Linked DNA regions of Homo sapiens. The protein of the gene in region 5 purifies or fractionates together with the protein of the main gene of each other region. This does not show direct contact. Each region holds a gene or a part of one and is shown on either strand. Other genes may lie near its edges.

Evidence for each region.
Region 1: the proteins of CPAP (region 5) and PHLDB3 purify together in Homo sapiens (affinity purification with mass spectrometry; one large-scale study listed by BioGRID and IntAct). This does not show direct contact.
Region 2: the proteins of CPAP (region 5) and CRTC3 purify together in Homo sapiens (affinity purification with mass spectrometry; one large-scale study listed by BioGRID and IntAct). This does not show direct contact.
Region 3: the proteins of CPAP (region 5) and NAB1 purify together in Homo sapiens (affinity purification with mass spectrometry; one large-scale study listed by BioGRID and IntAct). This does not show direct contact.
Region 4: the proteins of CPAP (region 5) and DYNLRB1 purify together in Homo sapiens (affinity purification with mass spectrometry; one large-scale study listed by BioGRID and IntAct). This does not show direct contact.

The regions. Positions count from the first base shown.
Region 1 is NC_000019.10:43,484,137-43,487,765, reverse strand, and holds part of PHLDB3 (pleckstrin homology-like domain family B member 3), read left to right. Parts: intron 1-642; coding exon 643-742; intron 743-895; coding exon 896-986; intron 987-1,069; coding exon 1,070-1,157; intron 1,158-1,443; coding exon 1,444-1,500; intron 1,501-1,605; coding exon of another isoform or gene 1,606-1,752; exon of another isoform or gene 1,753-2,220; intron 2,221-3,629.
Region 2 is NC_000015.10:90,627,312-90,630,940, forward strand, and holds part of CRTC3 (CREB-regulated transcription coactivator 3), read left to right. Parts: intron 1-1,922; coding exon 1,923-2,221; intron 2,222-3,629. UniProt on the Homo sapiens protein: Transcriptional coactivator for CREB1 which activates transcription through both consensus and variant cAMP response element (CRE) sites.
Region 3 is NC_000002.12:190,647,787-190,652,010, forward strand, and holds the start of NAB1 (NGFI-A-binding protein 1), read left to right. Parts: upstream 1-1,296; 5' UTR 1,297-1,574; exon of another isoform or gene 1,575-2,059; 5' UTR 2,060-2,196; intron 2,197-2,207; exon of another isoform or gene 2,208-4,224. UniProt on the Homo sapiens protein: Acts as a transcriptional repressor for zinc finger transcription factors EGR1 and EGR2.
Region 4 is NC_000020.11:34,533,397-34,537,025, forward strand, and holds part of DYNLRB1 (dynein light chain roadblock-type 1), read left to right. Parts: intron 1-127; exon of another isoform or gene 128-209; intron 210-1,209; exon of another isoform or gene 1,210-1,231; coding exon 1,232-1,399; coding exon of another isoform or gene 1,400-1,518; exon of another isoform or gene 1,519-2,191; intron 2,192-3,629. UniProt on the Homo sapiens protein: Acts as one of several non-catalytic accessory components of the cytoplasmic dynein 1 complex that are thought to be involved in linking dynein to cargos and to adapter proteins that regulate dynein function.
Region 5 is NC_000013.11:24,909,331-24,912,959, reverse strand, and holds part of CPAP (centrosomal P4.1-associated protein), read left to right. Parts: coding exon 1-378; intron 379-890; coding exon 891-1,014; intron 1,015-2,873; coding exon 2,874-3,170; intron 3,171-3,629. UniProt on the Homo sapiens protein: Plays an important role in cell division and centrosome function by participating in centriole duplication. Inhibits microtubule nucleation from the centrosome. Involved in the regulation of slow processive growth of centriolar microtubules.

The DNA.
Region 1 (3,629 bases), on a different chromosome or scaffold from region 5:
GCGCAAACATTACCACAATCAATTTTAGAACATTTTCATTATCCCCCAAAAGAAACCCTGCATCCCTTAGCCTCTCGGTTCCCCGATCTACCCCAGTCCGGGCAACCACAATTCTACTTCCCATTTCTATGTTAATTTGCCTGTTCCGGACATTTCTTTTTTTCTTTTCTGTGTTTTTTTTTTTTTTTTTTGAGACAGAGTCTTGCTCTGTCGCCCAGGCTGGAGTACAGTGGCGCGATCTCAGCTCATTGCAATCTCCACCTCCCGGGTTCAAGCGATTCTTCTGCCTCAGCCTCCCGAGTAGCTGGGACTACAGGCGCGTGCCACCATGCCCGGCTAATTTCTGTATTTTTAGTAGAGATGGGGTTTCACCATATTGGCCAGGCTGGTGTCGAGCTCCCGGCCTCAGGTGATCCACCTGCCTTGGACTCCCAAAGTGCTGGGATTACAGGCATAAGCCACTGTGCTCAGCTTGATATTTCTTATAAACGGGATCATACCCCTGTGAGGTCCTTTCACTCAGCACATGGACAGTAGTGTTTTGATTTGTGCTGACTGGGTGGTGGCTTCACTGGGCAGTGCTCTGACTTAGGTTGGAGATCAAGCCTTTTTCCTATGCTCATGAGCCTTTTGTGTTTTCAGGGCTCCATTGGCCTCCAGAGGACTGGGAGCCTGCCCCGGAAAAGGGGGGAGAGGGGGAGCCAGAGAGGATCCCCCCGACCTCTGTCCTTCCATTGTACTGGTGAGGATCCCCCTGTTCCCCACTTCCTTCCCACATCAGCACTCATCCTGCAGCAGAGGATGGAGGAAACCCGCACCTATGCCTGCAGGGGAGAAGTGGATAGGCTCAGGCCAGGGTGTATCCAGCCCTGTAACCTGGTCCCCTCTACCCTAGAATCCCTGGAGGCCTCAGCTCTCCCGCCAGCAGTGGGGGACTCCGGCAGATACCCCCTCTACCAGCTGCTGAACTGTGGCCGTGGGAATAGGTGAGACATCAGAGAGAAGGTGGGGAGATGGAAGAAGAGGCCCAGCCACTGTAACCCACCCCGTCTGTGTTCCCTCCTCCTAGCTGTGGGGCCATCCATCCAGACATTGCCCACATGGAGCGGCTCCTGCAGCAGGCCATGGCGGAGAGGGAGCGGCTGCTCAAGGCCCGGGTGAGAGCCCAGGCCATCCTCTTCGGAACAGAAGACTGCCCCAGCCTCTCCTCCCTCAGACCTGGGAGACCCCCAACTCCACCTCCCTCAGACCCAGGGGTCCAGGCCCCCAGCCCCTCCACCCTCAGACCCAGGAGTCCAGGCCCCCAGCCCATCCTCCCTCATACCCAGGAGTCCAGGCCCCCAGTCCCTGTACCCTCAGAACAGAGAAGCTAGGACATTCTCCAGCCACCCTACCATCTTATGGGCTGGGATCCTCATTGAGTGCTTCATCCTGAATCCACAGGAAGGAACAAGAAGGGGCACGGAAGGTTCCTCAGGCCCTGCTGTTCCTGCCATCACGGTCAGTCCCACCCCCGCCCTCACGCCCACCTCTCCCTGCTCTGTTTCTCCCCCTGACCTATGCCCTTTCTTACATCTGACCCTTTCCTCTCCTCCAATTGAACAGAAAATTGTCCTGGGCTTGGCAAGGGAAAGGGAACTGCAGAGGACCAGTTCCTGTTCCCATGACCGGATGATGGTCATCTCCATGTGTGGCAGGTCCTCGGGTAACTTGCTCTACTCTGCCTCATTTTCCTCTTCTGTACATTGGTGACAATGTCAGCAGTCAGTACAGAAGGAGGACAAGTCCATGCTGGGACTTATTCCTGGCCTCAAGCAATCCTCCTGCCTCAGCCTCCCAGAGTACTGGGATTATAGCGTGAACCACCATGCCCAGTCCATGCTGGAACTTTTAAAAATCATTTAAAATTTTGTTTTTGGCTGGGTGCAGTGGCTCATGCCTGTAATCCCAGCACTTTGGGAGGCCAAGGCGGGTGGATCACCTGAGTTTGCGACCAGCCTGGCCAGCATGGTGAAACCCCATCTCTACTAAAAATACAAAAATTAGCCGGGCATGGTGGCACATGCCTGTAATCCCAGCTACTCGGGAGACTGAGGCATGAGAATCACTTGAACCCGCAGGTGGAGGTTGCAGTGAGCCGAGATTGTACCACTACACTCCAGCCTTGGCAATAAGAGCGAAAATCTGTCTCAAAAAAAAAAAAAAATCAAAACCAAAAAACTGTTTTTATTTTTATTTATTTAAAAAACTTTTTAGGCCGGGCGCAGTGGCTCACGCCTGTAATCCCAGCACTTTGGGAGGCTGAGGTGGGTGGATCATGAGGTCAGGAGTTCAAGACCAGCCTGGCCAAGATGGTGAAACCCCGTCTCTACTAAAAATACAAAAAATTAGCCGGGCATGGTGGCGGGCACCTGTAATCCCAGCTACTCAGGAGGCTGAGGCAGAGAATTGCTTGAACCTGGGAGGTGCAGGTTGCAGTGAGCCAAGATCACACCACTGCACTCCAGTCTTGGTGACAGACCAAGATTCTGTCTCAAAAAAAAAAACAAAAAACCTTTTTACGATAGAAATATTCAAGCATATGCATGAGAGAAGGAGTAGATTAATAGACCCCCAGGTGCCCACTGCGCAGCTTTAATCATTTTCAATATTGAATCTTGTACTTGCCAACTTTTTATTTATTTTATTTAACATTTTAATTTGTGTATGTACTAGGTATATATATTTTATTTTTATTTTTAATATTTTTCTTTTTTTCTCATAAGTCTTCTGCACTCCTATATTTTTAATGTATTTTATTTTTGTAGAGATAGAGTCTTGCTATGTTGTCCAGGCTGATCTCAAACTCCTGGCCTCAAACAATCCTCCCATGTCAGCCTCCAAGCTGCTAGAATTATAAGAATAATTCTAGGGCATTGGTGCCCAGCCACCAATTTTATTTTACTAATCCCATACCTACATCCCACTCTGCACTGAAATATTTTAAAGCAAAATATTGTATCCTTTCACTCAAACATCACTGTGTATCTCCAATAGATAGGCTTGTTTTTTGGGGGACAGAGTTTTACTCTTGTCGCCCAGGCTAGAGTGCAGTGATGTGATCTCAGCTCACTGGAACCTCTGCCTCCCTGGTTCAAGCGATTCTTCTACCTCAGCCTCCCGAGTAGCTGGGAGTACAGGTGCCCACCACCACACCCATTTATTTTTTTTGTTTGTTTTTAGTAGCGATGGGGTTTTGCCATGCTGTCCGGGCTGGTCTTGAACTCCTGACCTCAGGTGATCTGTGTGCCTTGGCCTCAAAAAGTGCTGGGATTAAAAGTGTAAGCCACTGTGCCTGGCCAATAAGTTTTTTTTTTTTTTTAACATAACAAAAATTCCATTGTCACATCTTATGAGATTATTAATTTCATTATATTGTAATATATAGTCCATATTCACATTTCTCTCATTGTCTCCAAAATATGTTTTTAAAAATTTATTTATTATTTTTCTTTTCCTTTTTTTTTTTTTTTTCCAAGATGGAGTCTCACTTTGTTGCCCAAGCTGGAGTGCAGTATTACAATCTCGGCTCACTGCAATCTCCGCCTCCAGGGTTCAAGCGATTCTCCCGCCTCAGCCTCTGGAGTAGC
Region 2 (3,629 bases), on a different chromosome or scaffold from region 5:
ATTTGCTTCATAGGAGAAATTTGATATTTGCTTCACAGGAGAAACTCTCGAAACCTTTATGCCCAGATTCAGAGTCTGGGCAATTCACCTTTTGGGTGAATCCTCAATGTATGAAGATATCTAGGGTCCCAGAAGTAAAGCAGCATCAGCACATAGCTCCTTTGGGTCTCAGGGAAGCTGGCATTTTCCAGTACAGCCTTTGACACTTTGCTTCAAGCTGAAGATCTTATGTTTAGTCACTGGTTGTCTTCTCAAAAAAGCACTATTTTATCCAGAACATGTCAGAACCAATGTCAGTTTCTGTATTTTCTTTTTTTTTTTTCTTTTTGAGACAGACTCTTGCTGTGTCGCCCAGGCTGGAGTGCAGTGGCGCCATCTCGGCTCACTGCAAGCTCTGCCTCCTAGGTTCACGCCATTCTCCTGCCTCAGCCTCCCCAGTAGCTGGGACTACAGGCACCTGCCACCACGCCCGGCTAATTTTTTTAGTAGAGACGGGGTTTCACCTTGTTAGCCAGGATGGTCTTGATCTCCTGACCTCATGATCCACCCGCCTCGGCCTCCCAAAGTGCCGGGATTACAGGCGTGAGCCACGCCCAGCCGGCAAAATTATTTTTAAGAATTTTAGGCTGGGTGCGGTGGCTCACTCCTGTAATCCCGGCACTTTGGGAGGCCGAGGCGAGTGGATCACGAGGTCAGGAGATCGAGACCATCCTGGCTAACACGGTGAAACCCCATCTCTACTAAAATTACAAAAAATTAACCAGGCGTGGCGGCACATGCCTGTAGTCCCAGCTACTTGGGAGGCTGAGGCAGGAGAATGGCGTGAACCCGGGAGACGGAGCTTGCAGTGAGCTGAGATCATGTCACTGCACTCCAGCCTGGGTGACAGAGCGAGACTCTGTCTCAAAAAAAATAATAATAATAATAGTGATAATAATAATTTTGCCAGCTGCTGGATTTTTGTCATTTCTTCCTTTTCGTAACTTTTATCAAACACTTAAATTTTTTGTCAACACGAAACAACACATAGTTCTGCTTACCCCACCTGCTGGTACAAGAAAGATGGGCTGAAGGTTAAAACGTAGGTATTGCCAGTTGAGATACACACAGCAGCAGCAGCCGAATAATTGATTCACTGGGCGAACCTGCTCCATGCCAGGCCCTGTGCCAGGTGCTGAGGATCCAGCAGGGCATAGGACAGGATCCCCAGTTTCTGGGAGCTCATGCCCTAGCAGCCTATGCTGCAAAGATCTCTCTCCCAAATTTCCTTGCTCATGATCAAATTCACCCCTGTCCCCCAAATAAAGCACCAGCAAAAACTTCCTTTTCCCTGAGTTGGTATAGACTGTGATGAACAATTTCCTGGGAACCAGAAAATCAAAGAGGGACCCTGGGGTGGGAGATACAGGGAAGTGTCCCTTCCTGTGACTCCCTAGTGTGCTAAGGGTAATTAAAGACCACCAAGACAGCTCCCCAAGGGCCATGACTCGCCGTGGAAGGATGTTCTCCAAAGGTAGCAGGGGATGCAGGCAGTGTGCTTGGGACAGAGACCTTCCGGGGCTCTAAACAGAATTTGTTGTACAGCCCTAGGGTCCTTTCCCTGGGTCTGGGCCGAGCACCTGGAATATTTGCCTCTGTTACCCCGGTTTACCTAGTTTTGCTCACCTAGGGGTTGTTGACGTGATCTCCCTCCTCATGGGAAAACATCGTTGTCATCTTTGTGGCCCCATCTCTGTTAGTGCAGGGGCATCTTTTCCTTGCCATTGGTGCATCGGATGCAGTCCCTGTAGGAGAGCTGTCCAGGAGCTCCTTTACCTACAGAATCATCATCGCATGTGACAGTAGACAGTTTTCTTTCATTTTTGGAATACAAAAGATTTGGTCTGAAATTATAAGTAACTTGTGAATTTGTTGTCTTCCAGGTCTCCAGAGTTCTCGGAGTAACCCCTCCATCCAAGCCACGCTCAATAAGACTGTGCTTTCCTCTTCCTTAAATAACCACCCACAGACATCTGTTCCCAACGCATCTGCTCTTCACCCTTCGCTCCGTCTGTTTTCCCTTAGCAACCCATCTCTTTCCACCACAAACCTGAGCGGCCCGTCTCGGCGTCGGCAGCCTCCCGTCAGCCCTCTCACGCTTTCTCCTGGCCCTGAAGCACATCAAGGTTTCAGCAGACAGCTGTCTTCAACCAGCCCACTGGCCCCATATCCTACCTCCCAGGTAAACACACACAGACAGACCAACCACTACAGTGAAACAGACTGCAAGATATAGGAAGTGCATTCCTCCTCTTTACTATTTTGGGTTACACTCATTATTACACCAAGCACCCATGAGGTCTCAAGTGCAGTCTGTTCGCTCTTATATGTGAAATCAGAGCAGAAGTGTCAATAATGCAGAATGAATTCATGATTTTCTTTTCTTTTTTTGAGAAAGGGTCTCACTCTGTTGCCCAGGCTGGAGTGCAGTGGCACAATCGCGGCTCACTGCAGCCTCACCTCCCGGGCTCAAGCGATCTTCTCACCTTAGTCTTCGGAGTAGCTGGGACCACAGGCATGCACCACCATACCTGACTAATTTTTTGATTTTTTTGTAGAGACAAGTTCTCGATATGTTGCCCAAGCTGGTCTCAAATGCCTGGACTCAAGCCATCCTCCCAGCGTGGCCTCCCAAAGTGCTGGGATTACAGGCATGAGCCACTGCACCCAGCCTAATTAATGATTTTTTATTATAATAATAGCAGATTTGCTGTGTTGATTACTCTTTAAGCAAATGTTGAACAATCTGTAGTCACTAACTCACAAACTTGGGGTTGAGAGGAACGGTAGGATATAGAGAATGCCATCCAGGTAAGTCTAAGGCAACTGAGGGAAACCAGGTTAGGATTTCAAAGTTGGCATGGAAAATCAGTCATTGACTCTCTAAGTACATTAAGCCATAGGGGAAAGCCAAAGAAAACATTTAATACCTTCCTGAAGCTTTGATAATGAATTAGACCTCTTCCCTAATTGTCTACAGATTTGAGAAACAATACTTTTATTGTTCATGAAATGCTAAGTATGTTGAGGATTATATCTCTTATAAGGATGAAAAGAAGTCTGTTGAGAAAGAGGCACATTTAAAAGTCACCCACCCATACAAAAAATGGAAAAATTAGCTGGGTGTGGTGGCACACGCCTGTAGTCCCAGCTACTCCAGAGCGGAGGTGGGAGGCTCACTTGAGCCCAGGAGGTCGAGGCTGCAGTGAGCCAAGATAGCCTCACTGCACTGTAGCCTGGCAACAGAGTGAGACCCTGTCTCAAAAGAAAAGAAAAGCCCATTATAGAAACACAGGGGTTGAAACATCCTATAAATTCTAAACTCAGAGGTGGTTCTCCTTATACCATAATCATCGAGGAATGTGTTTTCAACCTTTTGTCACATCCTCTGTCTATTACAGCATCATTTTTTTTTTTTTTTTTTTTTTTTTTTTTTTTGAGACGGAGTCTCGCTCTGTCGCCCAGGTCGGACTGCGGACTGCAGTGGCGCAATCTCGGCTCACTGCAAGCTCCGCTTCCCGGGTTCACGCCATTCTCCTGCCTCAGCCTCCCGAGTAGCTGGGACTACAGGCGCCCGCCACCGTGCCCGG
Region 3 (4,224 bases), on a different chromosome or scaffold from region 5:
TCACTGCAACCTCCGCCTCCCGGGTTCAAGCTATTCTCCCGCCTCAGCCTCCCAAGCAGCTGGGATGTCAGGCATGCGCCACCACGCCCGGCTAATTTTGTATTTTTTGTAGAGACGGGATTTCACCACGTTAGCCAGGCTGGTGTCCAACTCCGGACCTCAGGTGATCCGCCCGCCTCGGCCTCCCACAGTGCTGGCATTACAGGCGTGAGCCCTGGCCAGCCTAAGTACATTTTTGAAGGTGCTTTAATACTTTGGTTAGCAAAGTTTATGCAAACCAAAAAATTCTATATTGTGCCTTGGGAACTCTAATTTAGCACACACCAGCACTATACTAGCGCCGTAGTTTTTCTACACCATGGACACAAAAAACATTAAACAGTAAAATAAAAGGCAGATTTTCAGGAGGTTAAAAAGGTTGGAATTAAATTACCCGGCCAGCGCGACAGTTGTCAAAGCTGTACTTCGGACTCCCTGGTTCCATTCCTCCCTCCTCCTCCCGTCCCAACGCCAGAGCGGAGGTGGGGAGGGGGCAAGATGGGCGAGGCAGAGATGCTCTCCCAGCCGCCGGTTCTTCCAGCGCCGCGCACCTGCCGCCCCTTCCTCCATGCGGTCGCTGCAGCCTTCCCGCCGGACGCCTCGCCCCCCCGGGCAGGGGCGCACCTGGACCACCTGCCTCCCCGCCTCTGCCCCGAGCCTGCGGGGGCCAGGGGAGCCCGGCGCGCTGTTGTTTTTTTTTTTTTTTTTTTTTTAAAGTCAGCCTCCTAGAGGATGTTGGATTTGGCGGGTGTGCTCTTTGAAATACTATATCGGGAACCTCACACATAATTTTTTTTTTTTAATTGCAAACCTTCCCAGTTCACTCCGCAGCTGGAGAGCAGGCCGGAGGCGGCGTTCCCCACCCGTCTCCCTCTTTGTCGTCCCCTCCCCGCGCCCGGAGCGGGACTCGCGGGAGCCGCCCACTCCCGGCGCCCACTTGGTTCCTCCCAGCTGCCGTGTGAATGGGCCGTCCTCCGGATTCCGCGGAGGGGGCGGCGGGAAGGGGCCGAGCCCCGGGCCCAGCGGCCGCCCCCGCCCCCGCCCGGCGGCGGCCCACGCCGGGATCTGCGTCACTCGGCCGCGCGTGGGCGGGAGCCGGAGCGGCGAATGTAGCAAGAGCGGAATCTCCCAATGTGACAGCGCGGGGTGGGGGAGTGGAGGCGGCGGAGGCGGGCGGGGGAGGGGGAGGAGGGTGTAGCGCGCGCGGGGAAGGCAGGGGAGGGGAGGGCAAGGCGCGGCGGGGGAGGCGCTGCCGCCGCCGCCGCCGCCCGCGCGCCGCAGCCTGGAGGAGCCGCCGCCGCCGCCGCGGCCAAGCGAGCGCCGTCGGGGCGGGTGGGCGGGAAGAAGCGGCGGGCCCGAGGTGGGGGGGAGCAGAGAGAGCGCGCCCACCACCTTCCCTTCCCCCCTCGATGGGAGCGGGGGCGTCCCGGCTCCTGCAGCCGCCAGAGGAGGGAGAGCCGGGGGCCGTCGCTTCGGAGTTGGGGCTGAGCAGTCCTCGGGGAGAGCGCGCCAAGACCGCTGCAGCCGCTGGCTGAGTACGTACCGGAGCGGACGGTCGCCACTCCCGGTCCGCCAAGTGCGGGACACTTTCGCGGCTGAGCGGCCACGGGCGAACTTGGGGCGGCTGAGTCGCGGGGCCACGCGGGCACTTTGGGGGCGGTGTCCGGGGGAAGCGGGCTCCGCGCGGCCGCCGCCGGAAGGAGAGGGCGGCCCCGGGCTCGTGTGGGCGATTCCCGGAGACATTCTGTGTGCCAGGGCGGCGGGGAGCGCGGCCCTGACTCGTGCATTTTCCCTCCGAGAAAGGTTGGGGTGCCGAGTCCGTTTTGCTAACGGGGCTGGGGGCGTCACACGGCGCTCTGGGGGTGTGCGATGTGGGTTGTGCGCGCCGGCCCCAGAGTTTTGCAGCCACCTTCGTCAGGGCAGTCTTTTTGTTTGTTTACTTTATAAAAGTGCTGCACTTACCGTCTCGATTTTCTTCTTGGGTATCTTCCCTTTCCGAATGTAGTTTTCTTTTTAAAAGCGGAAGGAGAGTTTTACATGGAAGTGGCTTACAGAAACTTGGCGCTGAGGTGCAGGGAAGCCAGAAACTCTTTGTGTCTCTAAGGCCGATGAGGAATTTGGAAACACATGTGGGACATACAAGCGTTGGATATAGAGGTGTGTGTGTGTGACCTTATCATGGAGAAACACTGAAAATACTATCAAATCTTTGTGGTCTGCAAACTCAGAGCTTCCAAAGCTTGAGATAGGAAATGACACTTCTGTTAAGCCTGAATGTTGCAGGATCTCGGGGAAAGGGATAGTTGAGATGGAATATACATTTGTCGATTCTGCAGACCAAGCTTTGCAGCGAGTGATCGGGAGGAATCGTAGACTTGCATGTACTTACACCTCGCTCCCTGAGATTCGGGAGGCACGGAAAATTTTGGGATGGCTGTTAATTTAAAATTTCATCTGAAAGAGTCGATTTGGAGTAACTTGTCACTACCAGTTGGTTTGCCAGTGACGTGTCTGCCAACTCAAAGAGTGCAAAGATCAGAAGCTGAAAGAGGAATTCTCAGATCTTGTTTAAAAATATTTTGGCAGTTTTAATAGATAATATGAGATTGCATAGGAACAGAGGAGCCGAATTTAAAATAGATTAGTCACGTAGGAAATGCTTAGCTGTTGTAAAAGTGTTCACGCAATGACTTACCTTCCTAGGTTTTCACTTTTTTGAAAATTTTTCCCTGAACAACATACTGAATTATGATATTTCATAATTTGTGTGTGGGTTATAAGAAGTATGAGGAGAGAGGATGCATAGGATTTGCTTTTTCTGTTTTGGGTGGAGATTGAGCTTTTCCTGAAGACCTGAAAGAGCTGCTTCTGATCTAATCTGAGTGCCAGTAAAAGTGGCTCTTAGATGAAAGGCTTTTTCTTCTCCATATTGGTGTCATTTAAGACATACAATATTATCTTTAAGTTTAAAAGATTATATTTTTTCATCGGTATTAACATACAAATAAGGGTTTTCTTGAGTCTTTGTAGATGACTGGCTAGGTCAGCCTTTTTTATCCCTGATTTGGGTATTAGATATTGGAACATTAGGTCTTGAAAGAAAATTTCAAGGAACTTCTGGAAGAAGCTTTCTTGTTTCAATTTTATTATTTTTACCATTTTGCACTAAAGTTAATATGCCATTTCGAGATTAAAAATGTTTTTTTCCCGACTCTGATGGTCTCTTGTTACTTGTGAAGGTATCAATAATAATGTAATAATGACAACATTGAGGAACTGTAGATTTTTATTTTATTCTGCCTGCTAATTATGGATGTAATTCAAATGACAGAAATTCTTAGGATTACTATGGTTGTTACAAGGACATTTAGTAAGCTTATATGTCTAGTAAATAACTTGATCTATCTAAAAAATACTTTATCTCATCTTATTTCAAAATTATTCAGTTGAGTAATCTCTTTTTTGTAAGTGGCAAATAACATCCACTGTCGTATGAGAAAGTTAATAGATGTTTATTCTCCTTGTTAGAGAAACACTGAAAGCATTAGGTATTTTCATCACGGTATAGCTAAGAACCTATTGGTTTATTAAAGATTTTGGGGGTTTGCACTGTGGATGCTTCTTTGAAAGAAGAAATTATAAACTGGGGGACATCTTTGATGAATTTGTTAATGAACTTTAAATATTTAAAGTTCAGGTTGGATGAAAACAGAAGTATGTCAGTTTCTAAAGAAAATATAGACATGGGGTCTCGCTGTGTTGCCCAGGTTGGCCTCAAACTCCTGGGGCCAAGGGATTATCCCACCTTAGCCTCCGAAGTTATGTCAGGTTTCATTGGCCTAAGACTTAGGACTCATTTATTCCATTATAACAAGCCTGGAGCTGTTTTTTGTGAGTGCTATTTATGTACATTTTTGGAAATGAAATCTTTGTAAAATTTACCTTTAAATGCAAAGCTGTGTTTTGGATGGAAGTGACCATTTTATAATATGTTTTGAACAGTTTAAGATCATGCTAATGTATAATCAACCCGTCTATGCATATTTCATTGTGGAATTTGCTAAACATATTATAGCATAAATAATACCCACTTGAGCATAATAGAAGATTGCTAGACCCTTTGCTTTGGATTTATTTTTATCTTACCTGCTTCTTTTATCCTTTTCAACAGTAGAATGAAGAATG
Region 4 (3,629 bases), on a different chromosome or scaffold from region 5:
AAACATGCTTTAACTTGGCACGGCCATGTGGACAGTGTGTTTATAGCTGCTACCCAAGCCTCCCTTGGGTGGAAATCATGATGGTTATGTCCCAGCACAAGCTGACTTTTTCTCTTCTACTTTTTAGTGTGTAGAAGTTTGTGGCCGGGCGCGGTGGCTCACGCCTGTAATCCCAGCACTTTGGAAGGCCGAGGCGGGTGGATCATGAGGTCAGGAGTTCAAGACTAGCCTGGCCAGTATGGTGAAACCCCGTCTCTTCTAAAAATACAAAAATCAGCCAGGTGTGGTGGTGCGCGTCTGTAGTTCCAGCTACACAGGAGGCTGAGGCAGGAGAATCACTTGAACCTGGGAGGCGGAGGTTGCAATGAGCCGAGGTTGCACCATTGCACTCCAGCCTGGGCGACACAGCAAGACTCCATCTCAAAAAATAAAATAAAATAAATAAAAGAAGTTTGTAAGGCAGGGTGCGATGGCTCACGTCTGTAATCCCAGCACTTTGGGAGGCCGAGGTGGGCGGATCACCTGAGGTCAGGAGTTCAAGACCAGCCTGGCAAACATGGTGAAACCTTGTCTCTACTAAAAATACAAAAATTAGCTAGCTGGGTGCTGTGGCACGCGCCTGTAATCCCAGATACTTGGGAAACTGAGGCAGGAGAATCACTTGAACCCGGGAGGCAGAGGTTGCAGTGAGCCACTGCACTCCAGCCTGGGCAACAGAGCAAGACTCCGTCTCAAAAAAAAGAAATTTGTAAAAGCGCTTCCTGGTTTCAATTCTAAGCACTATGAATGAGAGTCTCTCTTTTTTTGGACAAAAAAATAAAAACCTGATTTTGTTAGTTTTTTAAATCTGTGTCCCTGCATGAATCAGAGCTAGTCTCTCCTTTTACTGCTGGGAACCAATCAGCCCTGGGAAAGGAACCCAGGAGTGAGCCAGCAGGCCTGCATGTGAATCCTGGCCCCACTGTGTGACTACAGACAGGTCGCCTCATCACTCAGAGCTCCTGTTGCCTCATGGGCGAATGAGATGGTGTTGCCACCCACAGAGTAGTTCTAGGGCATGGCACTGGCATGCTTCGGGTGCTCAGCACCATGCCTGTCACATAGCAAGCCCTCTGCGGATGGTGGCATTGACTGAGAACTGCTATTCCAGTTCTCCCCAATTAGGGGTGTGGGTGGGAGCTCGGCAGAAGGGGCTCCACATCCTCTCAGTCTCCGTCTGCTCTCCCCTCAGGCATTCCCATCAAGAGCACCATGGACAACCCCACCACCACCCAGTATGCCAGCCTCATGCACAGCTTCATCCTGAAGGCACGGAGCACCGTGCGTGACATCGACCCCCAGAACGATCTCACCTTCCTTCGAATTCGCTCCAAGAAAAATGAAATTATGGTTGCACCAGGTAAGGGGTCTTCTACCTCCCCATGTAGGAACAGACCTCATGGCACATTCTCTGTGGCTCATCAGGAGTCCTGGCACAGTGGTGTCTCCAGAGGATCCAAGCAGGGCCCGAGGAGTTGAAGGAATTGGGTTGTTGCCTCACTGCCTAGCCAGCCTCCAGCTGGTGTCCCATAGCAGATCCTCCCAGGGACCGGCCCCAGAGGGTAACCCCAGTCTCCTGAGATAGACAGACACGTGAGCATCATGTGTGTCTCCCCTTCCTTGATAGGAGAAAACTCAAAGGCATTTGGGACATAGAGGAGGGTGTGGCCAGGCCTGTCTGGGGCTGTCTGCAAAAGCTTCCCAGAAGAGGGGACACTGGAGCTGAATCTTAAGGGCACCAGGAAGCAGTGTGAGCAAGGCGGAGGGGCGGAAAGCCACGTTTGGAAGAATATTCAGTGATTCTTCTCCAAAATGTAAAGCAAAAGTACTGTATCATTTTATCCTTGAAAACATGTTCTCTGCCCACTTGTAAAGGCCAGGCCTGTCTTTAGGCCCCTTACAGCCAGCTTTTCCTGCCGCACGGGAGCAGATTGCTTTGTTTCCTTTACGCGAGGTGCTTGCCTTGCATTTGGGGGCTCTGTGGTGCAACCAAGGCCTGTGTTTAGTCCTTAGGATCATTCTCAGGGTGAGGAGATGCTCATTCTGGGAGGAGCCCACAAGGATGGGAGCACAGGAGCGAGCAACAGAGCCACATCTCCTGCCCGGCTCCCTCGCTCTCACTCATGGACTGGGGTGGCAGGCAGAGCCTCCAGGGCCGTCTTTGCATTATTACTTTTTTCTCACTCTGCTTTTTCTTGGCTGAGCCACATAGTTGAGTGTGCGTGCGTCACGTATGCGCGTGATGGTGCACTCCCGCTGCAGTGCCGCTTATCTAGGGCATCAGGATGTGAGTGGGGAGGAGTGGGAGGTGAGGCTTTGGTCCAGTTTAGAAGGGGCCACAAACACCTAACTCAGTTGCATGGACTTGATCTTGCAAGCAGAGGTTTTTAGGGCAGGAGGTGATAGGATTATGATTAGGACCTGGATAAAGGAAGGCAGTGGGGGGTCTGGGGACACTGAATGCTCTGGACTGGCAACACAGAGGGCAAGGAGGCTGGCCACAGAGTTCTGAGGTAATTTGATGGGAGGTCAGCCACTCCCTGCAGCAGACCAGCATAGGTTCTGTCACCAGGCCTGGAAGGATGGGCAGGAAAGAACTATAGAGCCAGTCACAGCAGCCCACAGGCTCCCTGGGACACTCCCTAGAGGGGTGGGGACAGAGCAGTTCAGTCACAGAGAAGAACATAAGAATAACTCCAGAGTCTATTATTCCAAAATCACGCTTCTGTGTGTAATGCCTGATCCATCGGGGAGAAAAGACTGCAGGAGGCACAGAATCTGTTTTCCCAGCTTTGCTTCCCACAAGCATGACCCTGGGCAAGTCGCAGAACACCTGCAAATCCACATCTGTAAAGTGTCGAGTAGGGGACTGTGCTGTGCTGATGTCCTGAGCCACCCTGCCTGGTTGAGTGTGTTGACCTGGGTTGGGGGAAAAAGCCTTGGAATCAGATTTAAACTGCAGTTCCTCCCAGGTTGTCATGTTGTGTGACTGCAGAGGACAAAGCTTCACTCCCCAAAAGTCGGGCCGGGATGGAGCGCAGTGGCTCACGCCTGTAATCCCAGCACTTTGGGAGGCCAAGGCAGGCGGATCACAAGGTCAGGAGTTCAAGACCAGCCTGACCAACATGGTGAAACCCCGTCTCTACTAAAAATAAAAAAATTAGCTGGGCATGGTGGCGCACACCTGTAATCCCAGGTACTTGGGACGCTGAGGCAGGAGAATCACTTGAACCCAGGAGGCGGAGCTTGCAGTGAGCTGAGATCGCGCCACTGCACTCCAGCCTGGGAAACAGAGTGAGACTCTGTCTCAAAAAAAAAAAAAAAAAAAAAGTTGGGCCGGGAACAGTCCCCCTGCTCACCCTGTGCACAGCAGACCTTGTGCTCCCCAGTGGCCCACTGGGAGTTCAGGGTATGGGGGAAGGGAGCAAATTACTTGGTCTCCAAATCAGACAAATTCTCCACAGACAGTGTCCCTTGGCATAAAGCTCCTGAGAATGTCTCCTCTGGAAGGACAGTGTCATCTGAAAGCTCCTGGCCATTCAGGTCTCAACTTGGCAGCGGCAGCGTCTCCAATTTGGCCCTGAAGACCC
Region 5 (3,629 bases):
AATCCTTCTCGGGCTGGGGTCATATTAAATCGTGGATTTCCTATTTTGGAAGCAGACAAAGAGAAGCGAGCAGCTGTGGACATTTCTACCAGCTTTCCTATTAAAGGCACACATTTTTCTGATAGCTTCAGCTTTATAAATGAAGAAGATTCACTTCTTGAAGAACAGAAGTTGGAGTCAAACAACCCTTACAAACCACAGTCAGATAAATCTGAAACCCATACAGCCTTTCCTTGCATTAAAAAGGGACCACAGGTAGCGGCATGTCACAGTGCTCCTGGACACCAGGAAGAAAACAAAAATGACTTCATCCCAGATCTTGCGAGTGAATTCAAAGAAGGGGCTTATAAAGACCCACTTTTTAAAAAACTTGAACAGGTACAATAGGATTTGGCCTACTGTGAATTTATGTCATTGCAGGTTTCTGTTTATGTAATAAAGTCATTTGTTCTAGGTCTTCTTGTTTTTTCCCCTTCACTCTGAAATCCTCAGAATACCAGATTTTGCCCTTTGTCTAATGTGAAACATTTAAGTGTGTTTAATTAGCACTTATAATAACTTTAAGTTGTTACCTCATTTGGCGAAAAGTAAGAAATGGTTGATCAAGTATTAGGGGAAAAAATTGGATGATGTACTGATGCCCATCCTATTTTAACAATCAAAGGATTTATATGACTGTTTCGGTTTCTTAGTTGAGATAGTTGATAAGATTTCCTTCGTAAGGATATGAGTTTTAGATTTTCGGTGGCTGATTTAGTTACCTAGGGGTCCCTGTCTAAAACTTCTTACCAGGAAAGATAGGAGGAGGGAGATGGGAGGAATTAAGGGAACGAGGTGTCCATGAAGAATTGTAAAGTTGATTTAATAAAGTTAATTTTGTATTTAAAAAGCTGAAAGAAGTACAACAGAAGAAGCAGGAACAATTGAAGAGGCAACAGTTGGAGCAACTACAGAGACTCATGGAAGAACAAGAGAAGCTGCTCACCATGGTGTCTGGGCAGTGCACACTTCCAGGTATGCTTTGCCTACACAGGGCCTCAGTATAATGCACATTTCTTACCTGTAGTTGTTTGACACGTTATTTCTATCGTTCCTGTATCATGTGTTGTGAACTCCAGTTTCTTTAAAGGCTAGCCCGATAAATGTGAAATGGTAGAGTTGTAATACAACTGGAACAAGAAGGAGCTGCCGCATTCTGGTGTGCGCATGCCCTGCTTTAAGGCATTGATGTTTATTCATTAAAAAAAAAAAAAAAATGAGCTGGGTGTGGTGGTCCATGCCTGCAGTCCTAGCTACTCTGGAGACTGAGGTGGGAGGATTGCTTGAGCCCAGGAATTTGAGGCTGCAGCAGTGAGCTATAATGGCACCACTGCATTCCAGCCGGGCAACAGAGTGAGACCCTGTCCCCCCAAAAAAGGTCCAATAGAAGAAAAGTCAGATTTGGCCTAGAGCTGCTGCTGGTATCCAACCCCTGCCTGATGAATGAAAACTGTTGGGTGTCATGAAGGTAAATACATGTAGGAGCCACTCTGTTCAGCTGAAGAACCATACCAAAGATATTTTCTGTGGTAGGAGATGACAGTATTCTGTTGTGTGACCCATCAGTTAACGGAAAGCGTCACGTGCCAATCAGGAAAGAAAACTGGAAATGTGACCTGGAGCAGTGGTTTGAAAGTTTCTTGACCACACTCTGTAGTAGTAAAAATGTTTAAAATCGTGACTCATAATGACAAAGCAATTTCATGTCATCAGTCCTTATTGGTGTTCCTGGCATGTAGTGAGGACATTTTCTGTCTTGTTTATTCTAGTTCTATATCATTTTAAAAAATGCTACATCCGATAATAAAATTATTATAGATTGTGTCCCATAGTTTGAAAAAAACTGAGGTTGGAGCCATGTGTTTGCTTCTTTTAAGAAATATACTTTACTGACCCAGGAAAGCACCTGTTCTGCTCAGAGATTATGCTGGGCATTGAGAATACAAGGAAAAAAAGACTTGGCAAGTGAGTGAGGCTGGGTGCAGGGGTCAGGTGGGGTGTGGTCATGAGAAATTGTAGCACATAAACAATGGTTTAGGGAATTTGGATGTTTATCTTAGAGAATATAGAAAACATTTGTGTGCCTTAAAATAGTTGAATGGCTTAGGGTTTCTTTATGGAATACATACAAAGAATAATCAAGATCACTTAAATAACAGCTGTGATACTTTTAAAGGTAGAACCGCACTATGACAGAATGACAGGGAAGCTGATTTCAAAGTTATTTACATAAGAACTAGCCTCATGCAGTCATGGAGCAGTTTGCTTTGGAGCAGTAGTTTTCAAATATTTTGGTCTCAGGATCCCTTAGGATTCTTAAATATTTGAGAGCCCCAAAGAACTTTTGTTATATGGGCTGTATTTACCAATAACTTACTGCATTAGAAATTTAAACAGGCTAGACATAGTGGCTCACACCTGTAATCCCAGTACTTTGGGAGGCCAAGGCCGGCAGATCACCTGAGGTCCGGAGTTCAAGACCAGCCTGGCCAACATGGTGAAACCCTATCTGTTCTAAAAATATAAAAAATTAGCTGGGCGTGGTGGCACACGCCTGTAATCCCAGCTACTCAGGAGGCTGAGGCACGAGAATCACTTGAACCCAAGAGGTGGAGGTTGCAGTGAGCTGAGATCGCACCACTGCACTTCAGCCTTGGCGACAGAGCGAGACTGTCTCAAACAATCAATGGTTTTGTTAAACACCATTTCCTAATAAAGGGAAAAAATACTGTTGTCACTGTGGAGAAGTCTTTGTGGGGTGGGGGTCACTACTGGGGATAAAAGAGAAAATGTTGAAGGAAGTCATCAGCTTTGTTGCATTTCTTAATTGTAAGGTTTGAGTTTACTGCCTGATGATCAGAGCCAGAAGCACAGGTCTCCAGGAAATACCACCACTGGAGAGAGAGCCACATGCTGCTTCCCATCATATGTCTACCCGGACCCAACCCAGGAAGAAACATACCCGTCCAACATTTTATCCCATGAGCAAAGCAACTTCTGTAGAACTGCTCATGGAGATTTTGTCTTAACTTCAAAACGTGCGTCTCCTAATTTATTTTCTGAGGCACAGTATCAAGAAGCACCTGTGGAAAAAAATAATTTAAAAGAAGAAAACCGTAACCATCCTACAGGTGAGCTACTTATGTTTCTCTCTTCTGTGCTTATAGTGTTACTAAGTTGTCCTAAGATGAAGCCTTTCCATGTTTTTTCTTTAAAAATTATTTTTTCAGAGATGGAGTGTTGCCGTGTTGCTCAGGCTGGACTCAATCTCCTGGGCACAAGTAATCTTCCCCCATCAGCCTCTCAGGTAGCTGGGACTATAGGCACGTGCTACCCTGCCAGCTCTTTCTGTATGGTTATTTTTTTTTGTCCCCTGTGGCGTGTTTTTTTTTTTTGAGACAGTCTCGCTCTGTCACCCAGGCTGGAGAGCAGTGGCACAATCTCAGCTCACTGCAACCTCTGCCTCTCGGGTTCAAGTGATTCTTGTGTCTCAGCCTCCCAAGTAGCTGGGATTACAGGTATGTGCCACCATGCCCAGATAATTTTGTGTATTTTTAGTAGAGATGGGGTTTCAACATGTTGGCCAGGCT